7 linked regions of the Homo sapiens genome follow. The protein of the gene in region 4 interacts with the protein of the main gene of each other region in a pairwise test. Each region holds a gene or a part of one and is shown on either strand. Other genes may lie near its edges.

The links.
Region 1: the proteins of HSF2BP (region 4) and SHISA6 interact in binary tests that used the Homo sapiens proteins (3 or more experiments, as listed by UniProt).
Region 2: the proteins of HSF2BP (region 4) and FAM124B interact in binary tests that used the Homo sapiens proteins (3 or more experiments, as listed by UniProt).
Region 3: the proteins of HSF2BP (region 4) and WDR25 interact in binary tests that used the Homo sapiens proteins (3 or more experiments, as listed by UniProt).
Region 5: the proteins of HSF2BP (region 4) and CAMSAP3 interact in binary tests that used the Homo sapiens proteins (3 or more experiments, as listed by UniProt).
Region 6: the proteins of HSF2BP (region 4) and RAD51D interact in binary tests that used the Homo sapiens proteins (3 or more experiments, as listed by UniProt).
Region 7: the proteins of HSF2BP (region 4) and EAF1 interact in binary tests that used the Homo sapiens proteins (3 or more experiments, as listed by UniProt).

What each region holds. Positions count from the first base shown.
Region 1 is NC_000017.11:11,261,713-11,265,212, reverse strand, and holds part of SHISA6 (protein shisa-6 isoform 1 precursor), read right to left. Parts: intron 1,848-3,500; coding exon 1,687-1,847; intron 1-1,686. UniProt on the Homo sapiens protein: Involved in maintenance of high-frequency synaptic transmission at hippocampal CA3-CA1 synapses.
Region 2 is NC_000002.12:224,392,108-224,395,607, forward strand, and holds part of FAM124B (protein FAM124B), read right to left. Parts: intron 1-3,500.
Region 3 is NC_000014.9:100,522,985-100,526,484, reverse strand, and holds part of WDR25 (WD repeat-containing protein 25), read right to left. Parts: intron 616-3,500; coding exon 445-615; intron 1-444.
Region 4 is NC_000021.9:43,533,989-43,537,488, forward strand, and holds part of HSF2BP (heat shock factor 2-binding protein), read right to left. Parts: intron 1-3,500. UniProt on the Homo sapiens protein: Meiotic recombination factor component of recombination bridges involved in meiotic double-strand break repair.
Region 5 is NC_000019.10:7,598,863-7,602,362, reverse strand, and holds part of CAMSAP3 (calmodulin-regulated spectrin-associated protein 3), read right to left. Parts: intron 1-3,500. UniProt on the Homo sapiens protein: Key microtubule-organizing protein that specifically binds the minus-end of non-centrosomal microtubules and regulates their dynamics and organization.
Region 6 is NC_000017.11:35,109,861-35,113,360, forward strand, and holds part of RAD51D (DNA repair protein RAD51 homolog 4), read right to left. Parts: intron 1-3,500. UniProt on the Homo sapiens protein: Involved in the homologous recombination repair (HRR) pathway of double-stranded DNA breaks arising during DNA replication or induced by DNA-damaging agents. Bind to single-stranded DNA (ssDNA) and has DNA-dependent ATPase activity.
Region 7 is NC_000003.12:15,440,356-15,443,113, forward strand, and holds the end of EAF1 (ELL-associated factor 1), read left to right. Parts: 3' UTR 1-2,258; downstream 2,259-2,758. UniProt on the Homo sapiens protein: Acts as a transcriptional transactivator of ELL and ELL2 elongation activities.

The sequences.
Region 1 (3,500 bases), on a different chromosome or scaffold from region 4:
TGTTTAAAACACTAATGTGATGCCAGCACCATCCCTAGAAATTCTAGTGATTCTGTGGAGCCCAGGCATCAGCAATTTTAAGACCTCCTCAGGTGATTCTAAAACGCTGCCATGTAGATGACCACTGGTCCAGAAGTTTTTGCCAAGATTCCTTCTATTGCTTGTTTTAAGGACCTATGGTATTAAAGCTGAAAATGCATCTTAGACATTTTGCAAAGGTGGAGCCCTCATCTTTACCTTTACAGCAGAGGTTTTTAACTTTGGATGAATCTATTAATTCCCCTCAATCATATACAAACTGTTGATTGAATATGAATATGTATATGTATTTGTATTTTTCAGGAGGGAGTGTCATCTGCCTTTATTAGGTTCTCAAAAGATTTAAGAATGCTATTTTAAAAGCAAATATTAGGTTTCTGACGTAATAAATTTAAGAAAATTAAAGAATGAATGGAAAATAAATTTGGTCTCATCAGCACCTTTGCTATAGTTTGGATTTGATCACACCCACTGCCACCTAGTGGCTATATATCCTTATTGCAGGTTTAGTTCAGATCACATTGCCCATCCTCTGAAAACTGTTGAGCAATAGATGTGCAGATTTCAGATCCAAGCATCAAAGTAAAAGCTTTCTCTGGGACTAGGATTAGTACCAGTAAGAGGCTATCTGGAAACACTCACTACAAGAGATGACTTCCCAAGCTGTACTTGTTAAGGAGACTGTCCACTCAGATATTTTGGATTCATACCCTTAACTGGGTAAGGATATTACGGTTTCCTAGTTCTTACTGTTGTTAACTATTTGCCTTGGCTTGAATCTTGTTTTTCTCTCTTACTAATCATGTGACCTTGGGAAAGTTACTTAACCTTTCCATTCCTCACACAAAATGGGGATAATATAAGTACTTCTAAGATTGCTGTGGAGAATAAATAAGAAAATATATGTAAAAGGCTCAGCATGACTCTTGGCACAGAACAAGATTCCAATAAATATTTAGGTTATATTACTGTTATTACTGATTTTTAAATTATTATTAACATCTCAGTGACCTTGTTCAAGTTACTAAATTTCTTTGAGCTGCATATATTGACCCGTAAGACAAGGAAAATAAGCCCTGCCATTTTCTTCACAGTTATAGCTATGATAAGTACAAAAAGTAAAAGGCATATTGTTATTTTATGGCAACTCATCATACATCCAGGGAATCTACAGAGCACAGGAAAAGGTCACTCAAAAATACAGATGTTAATTCTCACCCTCAGGAAGGAGCTCTTTGAGATCCCAATAGTTGAGCAGGCTCTACATTGGGGTACAGTAATTTCTTGTCACATATCTAGCATCCTACTCAGCCTAAAGTTTCCCACCACGTGGGCGAATGGATGGCCATACCCTGCTATGGATGCTGCAAGCTCCTTTTCCGGTAAGAGAATTATACCAACCACTCACTAGGTCACAAGTGCCTGAAATTGTCAGTCCTCATCCAGCCCAGACACTGACCGGCAGCAGTCTTGCCCATTCCAAACTCACCCCAGGGAGAGAGTCCCAAAAATCTTTTGCCAGCCTGCCTGTCCATGAGAGTCCCTCATCACACCATCATGGTCCACAACCTGCCCCACCAGAGCAGAAACATCCTGAAACCTCTCACCAGCCTCAGCAAAGAATCAAGGTGCCCAGCTGTTACTTACCTGGAGTCTGCTTGGCCGTACGCACAGGAGTGTAGTGGTTTTTGGAGGACGATCTGACCGGCGTGTTCTCTTTGGGAGAGGTATCGATAGCCGAGATAGTTTCTCTTTCACAGTGTGCTATGGGGATTGGTCCCTGTTGTCTTAAGATGTCAGCCAGAGCCCTAAACAAGGAGGAGATCACATAATGAGATTCACTGAGCAGGTGTGCACAACCATGAGGGGAGTTGGCTTACTTTCATATGCCCTTTGATTTACAGAGATGCAGGAAGAGACAGAGACAGCATTCAGCTCTCAATAGTCAGCTACATCTGGTGTTGGTCTCAGGGGGGACACAGGGTAAAGGTTACCATGCCTGGAGGTACAGACTAAAAGGCTGGGACTACGGTTTCTTTCTTTAATTTATTTCACATCAGTAAACTCTGAGCCCTTTCAAAATACTGGCTCCCCAAATATCCACCTATGCCAGGCAGGTATCTATAGCAGCTGGCCAGTGGAATGCCACTATGGTGAAGGGCTGAAACCATCGGCCTCAAATTCAGCAGCAGGTCACTAATATCAGGGGACCACTTCATCATCCAAAACTACACACTGAGTATCATGTACTAGATACTGGAGACCCAAATAAGTACAACACACAGCTCCTGCTATCAAGGAAGGGTGTGATTGAGCTGCAAAGACAGGACATAGAGATGAAAAGATAAAAATCAAAACACGTGGATGGTGCAGACATTGAAGACAACTGGAGTTTAGAGGAGGGAGCAATCACAAACACAGGGGAAAAATACACAGGAAGAAAGAGAGACAGGCAGAGACTCTGCCATAGCAGGAGAGACCCGCCCCCCTGCAAGAGGTCCAGTTACTCAGAGAAAGCAGCTTTTGTTAACTCAGCGCCTAGCTTCAACAACCAAACATGCATTGACTGACGATTCAGCATGCATCAGTCATTGAAGAGACACAGATCAATGGGACCCAATTCCTGCCATCTAGGGGTTCATAATTTAGGGGGAATCGCTCTCCTATTTGCTTTCAAACAGGATGCCCTCTGTGGGTGTGACATGTGAGATACCCACTGGCAGTGGGAAACAGATGAGTGTGGACAGCCACAAGAAACTACACCTGGATACTGTCACTTCAGATCCAGGTCCCCAGTCCTCAATGCACTCCCGTTTTGCACATGCCAGGCAAAGACTATTCCATCTTCTCGAGGGGTGTCTCTGATGGGTGGGGCCCTGCCCACCCCAAGGCTTCCCTCTTACCAGGAGTCCAGCTCCAACACTCTGCCCCCATGAAAAGTGACAACTGCAGCAGTTTAAAAATGCATCTGAGTAAATTGTGGGGGAAAGAATAGTTTCTTCACAAAATGGTCCTGGGACAACTGACTGGATCGCCACATGAAAAAGAAGGGAGTTGGATCCTTACCTCACACCATATAAAAAACTAACTCAAAATGGATTATATACCTAGATATTAGTCCCAAAACTGTAAATCACACTGAGATACCTTTTCATACACACTAGGATAGCTATAACCAAAAAGCCACATAATACCAAGTATTGGCAAGGAGGTAGAGAAATTGGAGCCTTCATACACTACTGGTGGAAATGGAAAACCCTGCAATCCCTTTGGTAAACAGTTTAGCAGCTCCTCAAAACTGCAATGTTCCTTAAACGCAGAATTAACATATGGCCCAGCAAATCTACTCCTAGGTATTCCCAAGAACAATGAAAAATATATGTTGCATTAAACTTGTGTACAAAGGTTCATAGCAGCAGTATTAATAACAGCCAAAGGGTAGATACAACCCAAAAGTCCAT
Region 2 (3,500 bases), on a different chromosome or scaffold from region 4:
TTGATTGTTTCCAAAAATTGAACTGAATTCTACCCTTAAGAGATGAGGATTTGGCGCTGGCACGGTGGCTCACATGCCTGTTATCACAGTACTTTGAGGCCAAGGCAGGAAGATTCCTTGAGACCAGGAGTTCAAGTTCAGACTGGGCAACATAGCAAGACTCCCATCTCTACAAAACATTAAAAACTTATCCAGGCATGGTAATGCACGCCTAGAGTTTCAGCTACTCAGGAGGCTGAAATGAGAAGATCACTAGAACCCAAGAGTTTAAAGCTGCAGTGAGCTATGATCATGCCACTAATGCTCCAACCTGGGTGACAGGATCAGACCCTCTCTCTAAAAAAGCAAAGAAAAAAGATGAGATAGGCCAGGCATGGTGGCTCATGCCTGTAATCCCAGCACTTTAGGATGCTGAGGCTGGCTGATCACTTAAGCTCAGGAGTTTGAGACCAGCCTGGGCAACATGGCAAAACCCGGTCTCTACAAAAAATACAAAAATTAGCCGGGCATGATGGTGCACATCTGTAGTCCCAGCTACTCCAGAGACTGAGGCAGGAGGATAGCTTGAGCCTGGGAGAGGGAGGTTGCAATGAGCCGAGATCACACTACTGCACTTCAGTCTGGGCAACAGACCAAGACTCTGTCTCAAAAAAAAAAAACAACAGATGAGATAAGAGATAAAGTTTTGTCACCAACGAGGCTATACACAGTATAGTTACAGAAGCTTCAAGATGCAGGAGACCTTAGAAATAACCTAGGCCAGGGCAGTCCAATACAGCAGTCACCAACCACATAAGGCCATTTAAATTGTTAAAATATAATAAAATTAATAATTCTGTTCATCAGTCTCACCAGCCATATTTCTAATGCTCAGTAGCCACATGTGGCGAATGGCCACCGTATCGAATAGCACAGATACAGAATATTTTCATCATCACAGAAAGTCCTAGAGGACAGTGCATTCGTCTAGAGAAATGGGTCTCAGTTGAGAAATGGGTCTACATTGAGAGCATATGTGTGAAACCAAATCTTTCAAAATCACATGACTTTCTCCCACATGGCTGTCTTGGAGAGTTATGTGGATTCTAGCTCAGGTGCTGATTGCAGGAGATCCAGAGGTGAGGCCCCAGGACTGCAAGAAGGATACACAGGCATGAGTTTCAGCTCATCCCTATGATTAAGTCAGGAAAAGCCTCCAGAATGGATGGCCGGCAACCAACATGTGTTGTTGAGATGGTACACCCCAGACTGTACTGATGTTGTACTCTTGTTCTGTTACTTATCTGTCCTGCCCAGGTTGCAAGAATAGGACACCACCCTATTCTAAAACCTCTCTAGCTTCCAGGGAGGTTTTATCTTGTAATTTATAAAGTTTTCCTACTGAACATCAAACAATGGTGGTGGGAGGCGAGGTGTGTGTGACCTTTCCCATTTAGTCAACTTGGGAAGCAGTCACCCTTATCAAGGAAAGAAGACCTGGAAGGTGGACCTCAGAGAGAAGGGAGAAAACCATCCTCCTTCACTGTGTGAGTTTGGCCTGGAGCACCTCCAGGAGAAGTGGGTAAAGAAGACTTGGAGGAGACCTGGGAGGGACCTCAAGGCCATAGCTTGCCTGGGAGCTCTGAGAATAGCGACATCTAGAAGTACTTGTAAGTTATTCTTCTGGCCTAGAATTCTTTGGGGGGTTTTTCCCCACCTCTTTGTCCTCAACTCTTCAGAAAGATCTTGTTGAAATTACAGCTTGGTCTCAGCAGTGTTTGGGGACGGTTCCATAAGCCCGGAGTGGTGGTAGCAGCAGTTACTGGTGGAGGACACAGGGCCTGCAGCAGGTGCTGATCTCTCCAGGGGCAATGGCAACACACAAGCAACTGGGGGCCCAGTGAGGAGACCAGGACAGAACCTGAAGGACCTGCTGTAGCACACCTGAGAAGCCACATCTTAGGGACTGAAAGCCACCAAGCGACATTGACTTCCATGACACCACAATCTCCTCGTCCTCCTGGCTTTGTGGTTGCTTCTTCTCAGCGTCTCTCACTGGTTCTTCTTCCCTCTCCTCCGGAAGTGCACGCATTTTCCAGGCACTCTCTTTACCTCTTCTCTCTCTACACTCTCTTCCTTGGTAATGTTGATCCTTTCCAGGGCTTCAGCCACCAACTCCACCTATGCCCCTAGCCCATGCCCCCTCCTGAGTTCCAGCCCTCAGAGACCACCTGACCATGGAATCTCTTCATTTGAAAGACCTGCAAGCACTTCAAGCCCAATGTGTCCAGACTCATCATCACCTTCCTCTTCTTCACCCTCCATGTCCAATTACTGCCAAATTCAGTCAAGTCTACCCATGCAATTTAACCTCCTATTTCCATTATGAGTTCCCTATTTCAAAACTGCACCGGCTTTGACTGGAAAACTGAAGTCCCCTCTGAAGTGGTCAGTCAAGCCCCCTTCCAACCTGTCCTATTTGATGCTAACAGGATTATGGTCCTAAATTATATATTATAGGTATGAGCATGTCTGCCCCTTCTCTAAACACCGTAATAAATGGATTTCTTCAAATCCCATTTTGTGTCCTCCTGCACCCATTTTCAGTGCACAAAAAATTCTCTAAACTCCTTTGAACTCTCCAGCCCTATACTTTGCTACAGCCCATTCAGTCAATCCCCCAAGTCACACTTCCTCCATGTTACTTGACATCCTCAGTCAATTTCACCTTCTCCTTCCCTACACACAAGGTGGGTGGCTGCAGCTCTACAGTGCATTTCCTGCAGGCTGCCTGGTACTGCAGGCGCTTGCAGGAGGGTCCAGCTCCTCATTAGACCACCAGGGCAGTGTGATACCACACAGAACACCCACCCAAAGGCTAACAAGATCATGGCTGTCACATCTCCCACAGGGCCATGAAATATAGACCTTGCTGAGCGTTTCAAGTGGCTTTGAGGGAGGTTTATCATTTAATTTATAAAGTTTGCCTACTGTACATCAAACAGAATGAGAAGATCACCAATGCTAACTCAGTGACCTGGAATTTAGAGTCTGCCAGAGCCTGACACCAAAGTCATGGACTCTACCCTTGGATTGCCCCTGCCAGGAGGAGGGCAGGAGATGAATGCATCAGCAGGTGAATCAGGGGAGAAGAGCCATAATGCAAAAAATTGAAAAAAAATCTATAAAAAGTACAAAAAATACAACTTTGGACACGGGTCTCAGCTGTGGAAAGCTGAAAGCCAGCAGTAGTTGACTAGAGATACTGCAGCATGTGGTTGATTTGACAAAATAGCTAATTTGACTGAGGGCACAGTTTAAGTTGCAGGAGGTTTAAAAAAAGAGGCGGACATCATCACCCATGCTACCTTCCCCCAGAACACACTGACACTGTCACTACCACCAGAGGCAAAAGCACAGGGAGAAAAGCAGAGGGACTGTTTGAACGAATAAAGGGAAGGTTGAACCCACTATCATTTTGCACCCACTAAGAATTGAGACAGCAGAATTAAAACTGCCAA
Region 3 (3,500 bases), on a different chromosome or scaffold from region 4:
AAGGTCCTAGTGAATCCAAAACCTTAATGCAGGTGTTCTAACTGTGGGGCCCCTGCTCTGAACTCCTGGGCTACATCAACTGCCAATGCCACTGAGGGTCAGAAACCCCTTCTGAGTAGCTGGTTGTGGTGGCAGTGGGAGGGTGGGGTTTCTCAGGTTGCACTGCCACGTTCCCCATTGATCTGGACTGAACCGCCCCCCACCAGACCCTTACCCTGTGGGGTTGCTGTGCTGGCACAAGAAGAGCAGAAGGAGGTTGCATCTGGAAGCCCACAGCAAGCTCTCCATGTGTGCGGCAGGCTGAGACCTGACTACCCTCATCCTGGAGATTTCAGTCCAGTGAGCCTCCTCCCACAGAAGGGACCTGGGACCTCAGACAGACCAGAACTACATGGATACGCTCTGTGGCTGAAACTGACAGCAATGCCAAATGGGATTTCTTACGTGGAAAATCTGGTTGGAGATTTTGGCAGAGGTCCGGAAATCCCAGGCAATAATGGTGCGGTCAGCTGAGTCCCGGGTGGAAGCGTCTGTGCTGCTCAGGAACTCGGAGCCTTCCCGGAGGAACAGGATGTCCAAGGTCTGCTGGATGGTCGCCTTGTAGCTTCTCATCACCTGCAAGAGCGGACACCGGTCATGCTGGCAGGCCTGGCAGCACGGACAGGCGCCTATGCAGGGAAGGCCAAGGACCCAGGGGGCAGGCAGGTTTAGTGAAGTTTATGCTGGGCCACACACACCCAGGCTGAGCAGCACCCACAAGCCATATATGGAATCATGGACCCTCCTGCCCCATGCCCAGTCCAGTGTCTGTCAGCTTCTCAGCCCCCCTGCTCTATTGCCACATGGGTCCAGAGAGGCATCCCTATCACCCCTTGAGAGCAGCAGGATCCCAGGGAAAGCGCAAAGGGAAGGGCCTTGACTCGCCAAGGGCACCTCGAGAGCATATTGACATCCATCAACACTGGGGTCATGCTTTGAGTGGGTCCTGCTTCTGAAGACGTCACATAATTCACAGCTTGCAAAGTCCCAGATTGTTGTCCCAGAGGAGCCACAGTAATGCAGGAGCAAGTGTGCTTGGGGACAGACCATAAAGCCAGAATCACAGGACATATTTTAGCTTTAACGACACTTTGTATTGTTTTAGCATCATCACCGATACTTCACAGTCTGCTGTCTCATAAACTGACTTTATTAAGTATTGAGCAGTTGTTTTGCTTTCTTAGAGGATTTTATCACATTCAGCTTCTGCTCTCAAGTATCCAGCTCTGGTGAGGGGATGGAGAAGGGTCCCAGTACCAGGACCAGCAAGTAGCTCCACTTAACAAACTCACAGAGGACAGGACTTTAATGACAATATGGAAATAACATGCTGGGCACCCACGCGCAGCCATGGAAGCGCAGCAAGGTCTCAAGTTGGTCGCAGGGGCCGGCCGGTCCCTTTACCAGTTCCTGGGCCGCCACCATGTGGCTGCAGCATAAACAGTTCAGTCCCTGGGCCCCGCCAGCTCAAAATGAGCCACCTTGACTTTTTAATTGGAGTTCATACCTTTCAAATTTTGCAGACATATTTTCTGTCATCCTCCTTAAAATGTATACATCAAATTCACATTAAATGTGTCACTCCATAATTTCAGTTTAGGTTAGAGGAGGAGGAGGTTGAGGCCCATTCTCTGGATGAGGTTCACTGAGGCCCAGGAAGAGGTACGGATTTGCTCAAGGTCACAGGGCCAGGGCATGGTGGAGCCTCTTCCGACCTCCACGGCTTCCCTGGGACCCACGGTTCATTCTCCTGCTGGTCAATTCCTGCCTCTGTAATTCCTGGGGGAGGGTAGGCAACAGATGACCGCTCTTCTCTGAGCCTCTTCCAAAGCAACCCTCAACCAGGGAGATTTCAGAGTGGGCCCCCTGAAGCCTAAAGAATGATCCAGGGGTGGAAAAAAAAAGCCTTCTGAATGCAGAACAGGGAGACAAGCTGCCCCTCACGGCACGGCTGCCTGCCTTCCTCCACGCACTGGATTCTGCATGCCTGTGCCTGCTCTATCCTCCCACATGGCCTTGATATCACAGCCCCCACCAGCCTCAACACTTTGATCCCTAAGAGGCTGACCCAGGGAAAGGATGAGGAAGATGACGGCCCTCCCTGCCACTCGCTGAGTGCCCGTTAGGTGCTGGGCCTTGGCTGGGGGGTTCACATAAGTTATCTCATGACAAGAGCCCCATAGGTAGCTTCTCTCGGTGGGCATGAAGTCTCAGAGACAGGCAACTTGCCCAGGAGCCAAGAACTACCTACATGCCCCTGCCAACACACCACCTGCCTCCCAAGACAAACTTTTTGAGGAGAACCAAAACAGTTGTTCCGTACATTTTCTGAGAATGGATGGAAATGGCCCAATTCATTAGGGTGTCATAAAAGTGAATGGCTGGGAAACAAGCCGTGTTATGGGCGATCCCTGCCAATAATGTGGCTGCAAGTGGAAGGCTGGCCTTTGAAGTGATCGCCACCGAACATGATTTACTCGCCTTCACAACTGCTCATGCCCCAGGAAAGAGCAAAGGAGCCATTTGTGTGTCTAGCTGGTGGGTTTTATGGCAACCTTAATTACACCAACAGCTGGCATGGGACGCTGCTACCCGAGCCTAACGAGCTGGATCCAAAAGGGAGTCTCACTCAGACTCTTCTGGCAACTGCGGGCCCCTGGTAGAGATGCAGGGACATGGTCTTGGGGAAAGCAGAAGATCGATCATGACACATGCAGGGGTTATGTCCCTACAATCTGCCCACCACTCGGCCCACCAGCAAACCTGGGGGATGCTGGGCCGCTGCTGACTCGTCCAGAGCAGCCTTGGGTTCCTGCCACTTCCAGAGTGCACGGGGTTGGGGGTGGTCACTGGGCTCCAATCTTGGCCCACTACAGATTTACTATGTGCCTGGGGAAGGTTCGTTCCCTTCCTAGGTCTAGTTTTTGAGTCATCAACACGAGGGCCCCAACCACACCTCTGAGCCTCTAAGTACTCCTGGTCCTCAGAAAGAAGAAGGACTGGCGGATGCACCCAGCTATCCCTCACCCCATGCTGCCAGTCCTCTGCACCCAGACCTGAAGGACAGGGGGTGGGGAGGCACTGCTCTGGGCTCACACGCAACCCTGTGCTCCCTTAGCTGCCCACATCAGCCACCTGCCTACGCCACAGGACTGTGAGCTCCTGGCACAGACGCCCTGCTGCCCACATTTCTGGGTCACCCTTGGCTAGCACTGGGTCTGCCCCTGCAGGCATCAGTAAGGTGTGTCAAATTGATGCTGGATAAGTGAGTAAATGCATAAATGAATGAGTGAATGAACAAAAGGTCGACTACTTTAAAAGTAGCAATCCAGGGTCCTCCGGCTCCCAGCAACATCCTGGCATGCAGGGCTGAGGCAACACACAAAAGCCTTTGCCACTGGCTCTCCCAGGACCCCCGGGTGAGATGACATTCACTCACAGGTCCTTCCCCTGGCCCTGAT
Region 4 (3,500 bases):
ATACTAGAGATCCTAGCCTGTGCAGTAAGGCAAGAAAAAGAAATAAAAGGTTTATTGATTAGAAAGGCAGAAATGAAACTGTCTCTATTTGCAGATGATATGATTGTCTATACAGAAAATCCCAAAGAAACTAGAAAAAAAGTTATTAGAACTAATTGAGTTTAGCAAAGTCACAGAATACAAATTCAACATACAAAGGTCAATTGTATCCACATACTTATAACAAAAAATTAAAAATCTAATGTTTTTTAAAAATTACCATATATTATATAATAGCACCAAAACATGAAACACTTAAGTATAAATCTCATGAAACTATGTGCAAGATTTCTATGCTGAAAACAACAAAACACAGATATAAGGATCCACAGACATATAGATGGAGAGAATATGCCATATTTATGGACTAGAAGACTCAATATTGTTAAAATGTCAAATCTCCTCAAATTCATCTATATAATCAATGCAATGCCAACCAAAATCCAAGTTGAAATTTTAGCAGAAATCAACAAGTAATTCTCAAATTTATTTGGAAAAACAAAGGAACTAGACCAGACAAAACAATTTAGAGAAAGAGAAATGTTGGGGAATTGCAGTACTAGATTTCAACATTTATGGCCATAAAGAGTGTGGTACTGGTCAAGTGACAGAGCGACAGACAAAGAGATAAGTGAAATAAAATTAGAGGATCCAAAAACAGACCACAGCTTTGTGAACTCTCAACAAAGGTATACATTCAATTCAATCAAGAAAGAATAACCTTTACAACAAATGGTGCTGGAAAAATTGAACATCCATATGCAAAAACAAAGAACTTCAATCTATACCTTGCCTAACATACAAAAATTATACAAAAATTAATAACATACCTAAATGTAAAACCCCAAATTTTAAAACTTCTGGAAGAAAACAGGAGAAAAATCTTTGTGACCTTGAATTAGGTAACAATTTCCTAGACACAAAACCAAAAGCATAATCCATACAACTAAATAATTTATTAGCCACACCAAAATTTTAAAAATCTGCTCTTCAAAAGACAGTCACAATGAAAAGACAAGCCACTAGATGAGGACAAAACATTTGCAAAACACGTATCTGATAAAGGACCTAAATCCAGAATACACATACATCTCTGAAAACTCAGTAACACAACAGCCCAATAAAAATAGGGAAAGTGTTTGAAAAGACACTTCACCAAAGGAGATACACAAATGGCAAGCACACAAAAAGATGCTCAGCATCATGGCTATTAGAAAAATGGAAATTAAATCCATACCTATTAGAATGGCTAAAATTAAAAAATAAAAATCTGAAAATACCAAGTGTTGACAAGAATGAGGAACAACTGGAATGTTCATAGATTAGTGGTGAAAATTTAAAATGGTACTGCCAGGCCAGGCGCAGTGGCTTACGCCTGTAATCCCAACACTTTGGGAGGCTGAGGCAGGCAGATCACCTGAGGTCAGGAACTTGAGACCAGCCTGGCCTCCATGGTGAAACCCCATCTCTACTAAAAATACAAAAATTAGCTGGGTGTGGTGGTGCACGCCTGTAATCCTAGCTACTTGGGAGGCTGAGGCAGGAGAATCACTTGAACCCACGAGGTGGAGGTTGCAGTGAGCCGAGATCGTGCCACTGCACTCCAGCCTGGGCAATAGAGCGAGACTCTGTCTCAAAAATAAATAAAATAAATAAAATAAAATAAAATAAAATAAAATAATAAAATAAAATAAAATAAAATAAAATAAAATAAAATAAAATAAAATAATAAAATAAAATAAAATAAAATAAAATAAAATAAATAAAATGGTACAACCACCTGAGACAACAATTTGGCAATTTCCTATACATTTAAACACATACTTACCACATAACTCAGCATATGAGTTATATGCTGAGATAGTTTTATGTCACAACTCATACAATTGTCTACTAACAAGTGAATTTTGTTCTATGTAAATTATAACTCAACAAATCTGGCTTTATATTAAAAATAAGAAGAAGGCCAGGCTTGGTGGCTCACGCCTGTAATCCCAGCACTTTGTGAGGCCAAGGTAGGTGGATCACCTAAGGTCAGGAGTTCGAGACCAGCCTGAAAAACATGGTGAAACCCTGTCTCTACTAAAAATACAAAAATTAGCCAGGTGTCATGGCAGGCACCTGTAATCCCAGCTACCTGGGAGGCTGAGGCAGGAGAATCACTTGAACCCCAGAGGCAGAGGTTGCAGTGAGCTGAAATCACGCCATTGCACTCCAACCTGGGCGACAGAGTTAAGACTGCATCTCAAAACTAAAAAAAAATAAAAATAATAATAAGAAATTAGATCCCTGGACCCTCTCCCCTATTCCCTGCCTCTGGAAAAATGCCCTTCCCTAGTAGAGACTGGACATTTCTTTTCTTTTCTTTTTTTTTGTGAGACAGAGTCTCACTCTGTCACCCAGGCTGGAGTGTAGTGACGTAATCTCAGCTCACCGCAACCTCCGCCTCCCAGTTCAAGTGATTGTCCTGCCTCAGCATCCTGAGTAGCTGGGATCACAGGCACCTGCCACCACACCCAGCTAATTTTTATATTTTTAGTAGAGACGGGGTTTCATCATGTTGGCCAGTCTGGTTTCGAACTCCTGACCTCAGGTGATCCGCCCACCTCAGCCTCCCAAAGTGCTGGGATTAGAGGTGTGAACCACCCCACCTGGCCTGGACATTTATTTTCTAAAGAATCTCTGGAGGTGAAACATCAGGCACAATTGAGGATGGAGGTTCTGTCTGGAAAACATGTGGATTAGATAAACACATACCTACAAGCTCTAAGACATTCCCTCTATCTCTACTTTGTTTCCGGAGTTTATAGGCCTTCATCCCTCCAGAAATAAGGGTGGGTGAGTCTTCTCCAGACAATCTGAACAACCCAAGACAACACAGTCGAAGATACTGACCTATGGGTTCCCAATTAATTGATGCACCAGCTCACACTGCAGAAAAGTTCAGAAGCTCCACCCATATGCTCACAGCTTCCAATCGGCATTATAAATCCCACTGTTAAACATGACCAGACAACCACACATCACCAGACACCTGAGAAAAAGATAAATGGCTATCATTTTAAACAGGAACAAAAGGAGGACAAAGAAAAGAGATTGTGCAGTGAGAAGAAAAGTTTTAAAAAACTATTATTAATATCTTCCTCAAGGAGGTAAAAGAAGCTATATCATCTGTTAAACAAGAATGGGATGCTATTTTTTAAGACAATTAAAAATAAACAGCAGTCTTAGAAATTAAATGCCTGAGAGTAGAGATGAAAACTTCAATAGGAAGTATGAAAAAAGAAGTTGAGAGTACAGATGTCCCCTCTTATCTGTTGCTAAAACTTTCTGTGGTAGTGCCGGCATGTGTCAAATACAATCAAACTTGTTCCTGTCAGGTGCTTTCTGACAGTGGCAAAGCTCTCAGGGCACACACTGAGCATTCCCTCCTCCTATGGGCTTCCTGGCCACCTCCAAAG
Region 5 (3,500 bases), on a different chromosome or scaffold from region 4:
ACACTGACATTTATCAGACACTTATTATACACCGATGTTCTTCCACCTTGGTTCATTGGTACTTGGGGCTGGAAAATTCTTTGTATTCAGGGGATGCTGTCCTGTCCTGTACACTGTGAGATGTTTAGCAAAATCTCTGGTCTGTATTTACTAGACGTCAGTAGTACATTCCTCCCAAGTAATGACAACCACAAATGTCCCCAGACACTGCCAAATGTCAATTAAGTGTCAAAATCATCACCAGTTGAGAACCACTGCCTTATACTATAAACTTATTCTATTTTTCTTTCCTTTTTTTTTTGAGACAATCTTGCTCTGTCACCCAGGCTGGAGTGCAGTGGTGCCATCTCGGCTCACTGCGACCTCTGCTTCCCAAGTTCAAGCTATTCTCCTGCTTCAGCCTCCCAAGTAGCTGGGACTACAGGCGTGCACCACCATGCCCGGCTACTTTTTGTATTTTTAGTAGAGATGGGGTTTCACCACGTTGACCAGGCTGGTCTCAAACCCTGACCTCAAGCAACCCACCCACCTTAGCCTCCCAAAGTGCTGGGATTACAGGCATGAGCCACCACACCTGGCCCCACTTTCTTTTTATTTTATTTATTCATTTATTTTATTTTATTTTATTTTATTTTATTTTATTTTATTTTAGAGATGGGGTCTCACTATGTTGCTCAGGCTGGTCTTGAACTCCTGAGTTCAAGGGACCCTCCCACCTCAGCCTCCTGAGTAGCTGGGACTACAGGCATGTGCTACCACACCTGGCTAAAATGTTTACTGAGCATTATTTACAGCAGAACACTGCTGTCTGATAGAAATACAATGTGCCCAGACTGGCCAACATGGTGAAACCCCACCTCTACTAAAAATACAAAAATTAGCTGGGCGTGGTGGCGCATGTCTGTAATCCCAGCTACTCAGGAGGCTGAGGCACGAGAATCACTTGAACCCAGGAGACGGAGGCTGTGGTGAGCCGAGATTGTGCCCCGGCACTCCAGCCTGGGCCACAGAGCAAGATGCTGTCTCAAAAAGAAAAAAAAAAGAAATATAATGCGTATAATGTGAGCCCAATGAGCCGTCAAGTTTCCTAGAAGCCACATTACATATGTAGAAACAATAAGAATTTAGTAATATATTTCATTGACCCAAGACATATCCCACTCTTATTTTAACATGTAATCAACATAAAAATATTATTCATAAGATATTTTACACTGGTTTTTGTTGTTTGTTTTTGGACCAAGTCTTTGGAACCCTGAGTATATTTTACATTTACAGCACATCTTGGTTCTGATCAACCACATTTCAAGTGACTCAGTAGCCACATCTGGCTGGTGGCCACCATATTGAATAGCACAGGTCTACAACATAGCTAGGATGGATGGATGGATGGATGGATAAATGGATGAATGGGTGGGTGAATGGATGGATGGATGGATAAATGGATGAATGGGTGGGTGGATGGATGGATGGATGGATAAATGGATGAATGGGTGGGTGGATGGATGGATGGATGAATGGGTAGGTGGATGGACAGATAGATGGATGGGTAGATGGGTGGGTGGGTGGATGGGTGGATAAGTGGATGGGTGGGTGGGTGGAAGGGTGGGAGGATGGGTGGGTGGGTGGATGGATGGGTGGATGGAAGGGTGGGTGGATGGGTGGGTGGATGGATGAGTGGGTGGGTGGATGGATGAGTGGATGAGTGGGTGGGTGGATGGATAAGTGGGTGGGTGGATGGATGAGTGGATGAGTGGGTGGGTTGGTGGATGGATGAGTGGGTGGGTGTGTGGGTGGATGGATGGGGGGTGGGTGGGTGGATGGATGGATGGGTAGACGAGTGGGTGGGTGGATGGGTGGATAGGTGGATGGGTGGGACGGTGGGAGGGTGGGTGGATGGATGAGGGGGTGGGTGGGTGGGTGGATGGATGGATGGGCGGGTGGATGGATGAGTCGGCGGGTGCATGGATGAGTGGGCGGGTGGACGGATGGGTGGATGGGTGGGTGGGTGGATGAGTGGGTGGGTGGGTGGATGAGTTGGTGGGTGGGTGCGAGGGTGGGAGAGTGGGTGGGTGGGTGGATGGATGAGTGGGTGGGTGGATGGGTGGATGGATGAGTGGGTGGGTGGGTGGGTGGAAGGATAGATGGGTGGGTGGGTGGATGGACGGACGGATGGGTAGATGGGTGGGTGGGTGGATGGGTGGGAGGGTGGGTGGGTGGATGGGTGGGAGGGTGGGTGGGTGGATGGCTGGGTGGGAGTGTGGGTAGGTGGATGGATGGGTGGGTGGATGGATGGATGGGCGGGTGGATGGATGAGTGGGCGGGTGGATGGATGAGTGGGCGGGTGGATGGATGAGTGGGCGGGTGGATGGATGGGTGGATGGGTGGGTGGGTGGATGAGTGGGTGGGTGGGTAGGTGGATGAGTTGGTGGGTGGGTGGATGGATGGATGGGTGGATGGGTGGGTGGATGGATGGGTGGATAGGTGGATGGGTGGGTGGGAGAGTGTGTGGGTGGGTAGGTGGGTGGGTGGATGGGTGGGTGGGTGGGTGGATGGATGGGCGGGTGGATGGATGGGCGGGTGGATGAGTGGGTGGATGGATGAGTGCGTGGTTGGATGGATGAGTGGGGTGGGTGGATGGATGAGTGTGTGGGTGGATGAGTGCGTGGGTGGATGGATGAGTGGGGTGGGTGGATGGATGAGTGGGGTGGGTGGGTGGGTGGATGGATGAGTGGGGTGGGTGGATGGATGAGTGCGGTGAGTAGGTGGGTGGGTGGATGGATGGATGGATGGATGGATGGATGGATGAATGAATGGGTGGGTGGAAGGATGGATGAGTGGGTGGATGGATGGGTGGATGGATGAGTGCGTGGGTGGATGGATGAGTGGGGTGGGTGGGTGGGTGGGTGGATGGATGAGTGCAGTGGGTAGGTGGGTGGATGGATGGATGGATGAATGAATGGGTGGATGGATGGGTGGATGGATGGATGAGTGGGTGGATGGATGGGTGGATGGATGAGTGCGTGGGTGGATGGATGAGTGGGGTGGGTGGATGGATGAGTGGGGTGGGTGGGTGGATGGATGAGTGCAGTGGGTAGGTGGGTGGGTGGATGGATGGATGAATGAATGGGTGGGTGGATGGATGGATGAGTGGGTAGATGGATGGGTGGATGGATGGATGGAAGGCTGATTGAGACAGGATCTCACTCTGTTGCCCAGGCTGGAGTGCAGTGGCGTGATCATAGCTGACTGTACCCTGGAACTCCTGGGCTCAGGCAATCCTCCTGCCTCAGCCTCCTGAGTAGCTGGGACTACAAGCCCATGCCACCACACCCAACCATTTATTTATACCATGACCTTCCCTGCATCCAGTCATTTAATCCTTACGACACTTATTATTATACCCCTTGTACAGATGAGAAAACCAAGGCCTGGAGAGCTGAGATAACTTGTCCAGGATAAAAATGTCCAACATGAACTTGAGTTTCCCTCACACATCA
Region 6 (3,500 bases), on a different chromosome or scaffold from region 4:
TTCTTCATGTTGGTCAGGCTGATCTCAAACTCCCGACCTCAGGTGATCAACCTGCCTTGGCCTCCCGAAGTGCTGGGATTACAGGCGTAAGCCACCACGCCTGGCTTTTTTTTTTTTTTTGAGATAGGGTCTCACGTCTCACTGTGTCACCCAGGCTAGAATTCAGTGGCATGGTCACAGCTCACTGCAATCTTGACCTCCCAGGCTGAGGTGATCCTCCCACATCAGCTCCCCCAAGTAGCTGGGACTACAGGCATGTGCCACCACACCCAGCTAATTTTTGTATTTTTTTGGTAGAGACAGGGTTTTTGCCACGTTGCCCAGGCCAGTTTTGAACTCCTGGGCTCAAGCAATCTGACCACCTCAGCCTCTCAAAGTGCTGGGATTACAGGTGTGAGCCAGCCCTTGCCCATTTTCTAATTGAATTGTTTGATTTTTTATTGTTGGGTTTTAAGAATTCTTTCTTCATTCTAGATACAAGTCCTTTGTTGAATACATGGCTTGTAACTATGTTTCCCATTCTGTACTTCTCTTTTCATTCTGTTTTGCACAGCAAAAGTTTTAAATTTTGATTAGGCCCCATTAATCAAAAATTTTTTCATGGATCATACTTTTGGCATCAAATCTAAGAACTCTTTGCCTAGATTTTCTCCTGTTTTGTTCTAAAAATTAGACAATTTGGTTTTACATTTAAGTCTATGATCCATTTTCAATTTTTGTATAAGGTATAAGGTTTAGGTTGATTATTGTATATTTTTAGCCTATGATGTCCAATAGCTCCAGCGCCCTTTGTTCAAAGGCTGTCTTTCCTCCAACACATTGTTTCTGTACCCTTGTCAAAAATCAATTGTGTGTAATCCCAGCATTTTGGGAGGCTGAGGCGGGAGCATTGCTTGAGCCCAGGAGTTTGAGGCCAGCCTGGGCAACATAATGAAACCCTGTCTCTATAAAAAAAATACAAACAGGCTGGGCGCGGTGGCTCACGCCAGTGATCCCAGCACTTTGGGAGGCCGAGGCGGGCGATCACCTGAGGTCAGGAGTTCAAGACCAGCCTGGCCAACATGGTGAAACCCCATCTCTATTAAAAATACAAGATTAGCTGGGCATGGTGGCATGCACCTGTAATCCCAGCTACCCGTGAGGTCGAGGCAGGTGAATCAAACCCGGGAGGCGGGGGTTGCAGTGAGCCGAGATCACGCCATTGCACTCCAGTCTGGGCAAAAAGAGAGAAACTCAGGCCAGGCGCGTTGACTCACACCTGTAATCCCAGCACTTTGGGAGTCCGAGGCGGGTGGATCACCTGAGGTCAGGAGTTCGAGACCAGCCTGACCAACATGGAGAAACCCCGTCTCTACTAAAAATACAAAAAAGTTAGCCAGGCCTGGTGGCATGTGCCTGTAGGAGAATCGCTTGAACCCGGGAGGCGGAGGTTGCGGTGAGCCGAGATCACGCCATTGCACTCCAGGTCAGGCAACAAGAGCGAAACTCCATCTCAAAAAAAAAAAAAAGAGAGAGAGAGAAACTCCGTCTAAAAAAAAAAAAATACAAATACAAATAACCAGGCATGGTGTCCCACACCTGTAGTCCCAGCTACTCGGGAGGCTTGGGGTGGAAGGATTGCCTGAGCCCAGGGAGGTCAAGGCTGCAGTGAGCTGTAATAGCAGCAGTACCCTCCATCCTGGGTGACAGAGCAAGACTCTGTCTCAAAAAAAAAAAAATTAGTTGTGTATACTTGTGGAGGTCTATTTCTGGGTTATCTATTCTGTTCCACTGATCTGTGTCCATCTGTCCCTTGGTCAATACCACACTAGGCTTAATTATGTAGCTATATAGCAAGTCTTAACCCTGGGTAGACTGATTCCTCCAGCTATCCTTTTTCCAAATTGTTTTAGCTAATCTAGGTAAAACTGGTCTTCCCGTAATTATTAGAATAAGCTTGTCTATGTCTATAGAAAAAAAAAACTTGCTGGGATTTTAATAGGAACTGCGTTAAATTACAGATCAACTTGGGGACAATTGAAATCTTCATTATGTTCAGTCTCCCAATCCATGAACAAAGTACATGTCATCCATTTATCCGAGTCATCTTTGATCTCTTTCATCAACAATTTAAAAATTTTCAGCATACAGATTCTACACATGCTTTGTTAGACTTATACCCAAGTATTTCATTTCTCTGAAACAACTATAAATGGCATTGTGTTTTTGTTTGTTTGTTTATTTGCTTGTTTTTTTGAGACGGAGTCTCGCTCTGTCGCCCAGGCTGGAGTGCAGTGGCGCAATCTTGGCTCACTGCAAGCTCTGCCTCCCAGGTTCACGTCATTCTCGTGCCTCAGCCTCCCCAGCAGCTGGGACTACAGGCACACACTGCCACGCCCAGCTAATTTTTGTATTTTCAGTAGAGATGGGGTTTCTCTGTGTTAGCCAGGATGGTCTCGATCTCCTGACCTTGTGATCTGCCCACCTCAGCCTCCCAAAGTGCTGGGATTACAGGCGTGAACCACCACGCCCAGCCATTTTGTTTGTTTTGTTTTTTTGAGACAGTTTCACTCTGTCACCCAGGTTGAAGTGCAGTGGCACAATATCCGCTCACTGTAACCTGCATCTCCCAGATTCAAGTGATTCTCCCGTCTCAGCCTCCCAAGTGGCTGGGATTACAACCACCCACCACCACGCCCAGCTAATTTTTGTATTTCTAGTAAAGACCAGGTTTCATCATATTGGCCAGGCTGGTCTCGAACTCCTGACCTCAGGTGATCCACTTGCCTCGACCTTCCAAAGTGCTGGGATTACAGGCATGAGCCACTGCGGCCGGCCAATAAATGGTAGTGTTTTTTATTTTAGTTTTGACATGTTCACTGTGAGTATAGAGAAATGCAGTTGATTTGTATGTGTTGGTCTTGTATCCTCACTAGTCCTAGGAGTTTGTAATTATTTGTTATTTGCTTGTTTTTGTTTGTCTTGCTCATCTAGCTGAGAGCACCATGGGGCAAGGACTGGGTCCGATCCCTGTCGCATCCCCAGCACTAGCACAGTGCCTGAAACACAGGAGGCACCCAATAATCATTCCAGAAAAATGAGTAACAGAAAGGTGCTATCACTTTTATTTCGCTTCTGTATCATCAACACTGGCTGTGAAAGACTTGGGATAAACCTCATGACATGCCAATTCCTAAACCAGGTTCTCTCCCTCAACCACATGAAACAGGTCACCACCTACCCTCCATGCCCTGCCCTATCTCTAGGCTGAAGTTTCTTCTATGCCACGGCCTGTACCAATGCCTGATCACATGCGTACCTTTCCTAGCCCTACAATCACCTTCCTAGGTTCCAGTCCTTGAGATGGTTCTTGATGACCTCCCATGACCTCTCTGTATATGCCGAACAGCACTTTAGTAAGCATCCCATCCATTTTTTTTTTCTTTTTGAGACGGAGTCTCGCTCTGTCACCAGGCTGGAGTGCAGTGGTGTGCTCTCGGCTCACTGCAACCTCCGCCTCT
Region 7 (2,758 bases), on a different chromosome or scaffold from region 4:
TGGAGGAAACTGGTTGCTAGTCAATGTTCTATATTTAATGAATGTGTGATAAATCATCCTGTAATCAGTATGGAGTAACCTGTTTTTGTAGTTTGGATGAATATGTCCTGAGAAATTTCCATCCACTTTGGTTCAGCGGACATCAAGGTAGTAATAATAATTTTTCCTCCACAGGTCCCTCCACTCATATGGCCTCTCCCTCCCCAGCTAGTGGAGGGGAAGCAGTCTGGACTTAGAAAGGAAATAGGTGGTCTGTCATAGGGGCTTTCATTAGAGTTAAACTTCATAGAGTCAACTGTTTCATCATCATAGTGAGCCCAGAGAGCCACTGCCCAGCAGCATGCTCACACCACCTACCCTAGTGTAGGTAATAGGTCTACGCTAGGACCCCGTGCTGGGCTCTCAGCCCATCATGAGATTTTGGTGGATTTAATGGCAGGTAGGAACTTATTTATAGTGGATTGATAATTGCTTTATAATTCCTTGGTAATGACAGCTCAGGGAAGGTTTCACAAGGTCATGATCAGGAGACTTGAATTGTTACTGGATGTAGGAATTGTTTCACTGCTCTTAACTTGCTCAAACTGGGGCAGGTTCCAGGAACTTGAACTAAAAATATCTATTTAAGCCTCTCTCTCTTTCTCTCCTCCCCAACTTTTTTCTGAAAGCCTTGATTTCTGTAGACAGAACTATGGTTTTTGGCATGTTGGGTCAAGACGTGTTTCTATAGGAAATGCTTGCACGTGGCACTGGCTTGGTGAGTCAAGCTTCCTGAGCTTCAGACCGTTTGTCCTGTCATCTGTCCTGCCCAACACTGTATGGTTTTTCTCTAGCACGGCTTCAATTTTGTTCTCTGCACAAAGCCTTTGGTGGTTCTGCCCTCTGCCCTCCAGCTTTACCCACCAGAGTAAGCAATCTTTTCTTTTTAGAAATCAAGAATTTGGCTTCACAGATGGCTTCTCACAGATGCCCTCCTGCCAGCCAAACCGGACTTGTTCTTCCTGCCTCTGTGCCTTCTCTCATTCTCCTTCTCTCCCTCCATACCCCACTTTTGAGGTTCTGTGGGTACCATCTTTGTGGACTCTTGTCTTTTTTTTCAACCCACATGGAGTGCCCTGTGTGTACATACTGACCTTTTTTTTTTTTTTTTTTTTTTGCTTGAACTCTGGTCGGTATGAGCTCCTTAAAAGCAGGTACTGGGCTGGCTGTGGTGACTCATGCCTGTAATCCCAGCACTTTGGGAGGCTGAGGTGGGAGGATTGCTTGAGTCCAGGAGTTTGAGACCAGCCTGGGCAACATGGCGAGACCCTGTTTCTACAAAAAGAAAAAGGGAAAAAAAAAGCAGGGACTGTCATTCTCATCTCCTCCCTGGGGTATCCACAGGAATGGACATTCAAATGGTTGTAGCCTGGTGGGGTAGAAGGCAGAGAAGACTACCCAGCCAGTGAAGTGCAGAGGATAGACATAGGAAAACATTCCAGGCATTTGGAGACAGCTGAAAGTATCCATGCTGACTTTCATGATTTAGAAGTCTTTAACTGAATTATTAAAATTGCCTTTTTTTTGTGCTGTACAATGTCTACTGTACTGTGGGTCATTTAGATGAGATGAAAAACTTAATTAAATCTGAAGTGTCAGAGGCGCTTAGTAAGCCTTAGTAAAGTTGTGATTGAAGAAACTTAATACAAATGAACTAGAGGTTTGTAATCATGCCACTCACTAACGATTTTATTTCTGTAGCAGAATCATTTTTTCTATGTAAGGTGTTAATGTGTGTGTATGTGCTTTGGTTGTAGGAAAACTTGAAAATTCCAAAATCCTTATTTTCCTATTTGAGAGGCTGGTTCAGCAGGGTGTGTGTGTGTGTGTGTGTGTGTGTGTATGAATGGTATATTTATTACATTATTTTGAAAGAGAATTAGTGTGTTATGTGGATAATGTTATATACAGCCAAAGTGGATGTTTCTATTTGGCAAGGAAGGTAGGATTTCTGAAACTCAGGCCTTAACCAATAGGTTGGAAGACAAGACCAATTGAAGAGTTAGGAAATGTGAGTTTTTGTTACTTCTGTTATTCCAGTCTTGGTTTCATTGTCTCATTCTTTATTTTTAAAATCTTGTGCCTAAAAGTTTTTTTGCTTAATTATGAAGTAGACATGCATGTTTACATTTATGTAAAATATTTGCTGTGTAAAGTATTTTTTGTTTATTCTCTTAAAAGATCACTATATTTAAATAAAAGTGAAGGTCAGCAACACATTTCTTGTCTTGGTGGGTTTCATTTTCTTTTAGAAATCAATGAGCAATATAGGGTTCTTTTAAGAACCTTCTGTGCTTAAGCCTAAATAGCTAACTAAATGGATTCCTTTTTAATTTGGTGTTTATAATCATTAGGAAGTATACCTCAGCTTTTAAAAGGTGTGACATTCAAAACTGAAGGACGAACTTCAGTTTTTAAAAGGTATGAAGTTCAAAACTGAATTACATCTGAGGCCATTTTACTTGGTCTGAGAAGGAGGGCTTAGTTTGGGTCTGAGAACCATGCAACAGTTAAACTGAATCCCTAGACATATCCTATTGTCATTTTAGTTTACCAGATTCCTTCTGCCTGGAATGCTATGCCACACACACCTCTGACTCCCAGCTGACATTTGGCTAGAAATCCTGACCTCCTGCTTCCATTCTCCACTTCTGCTTCAGCAGTGCTCACATTTACCTGTGGTCTTGGCTCCTCTGCTAGACTGTATAAACTTCTAGGT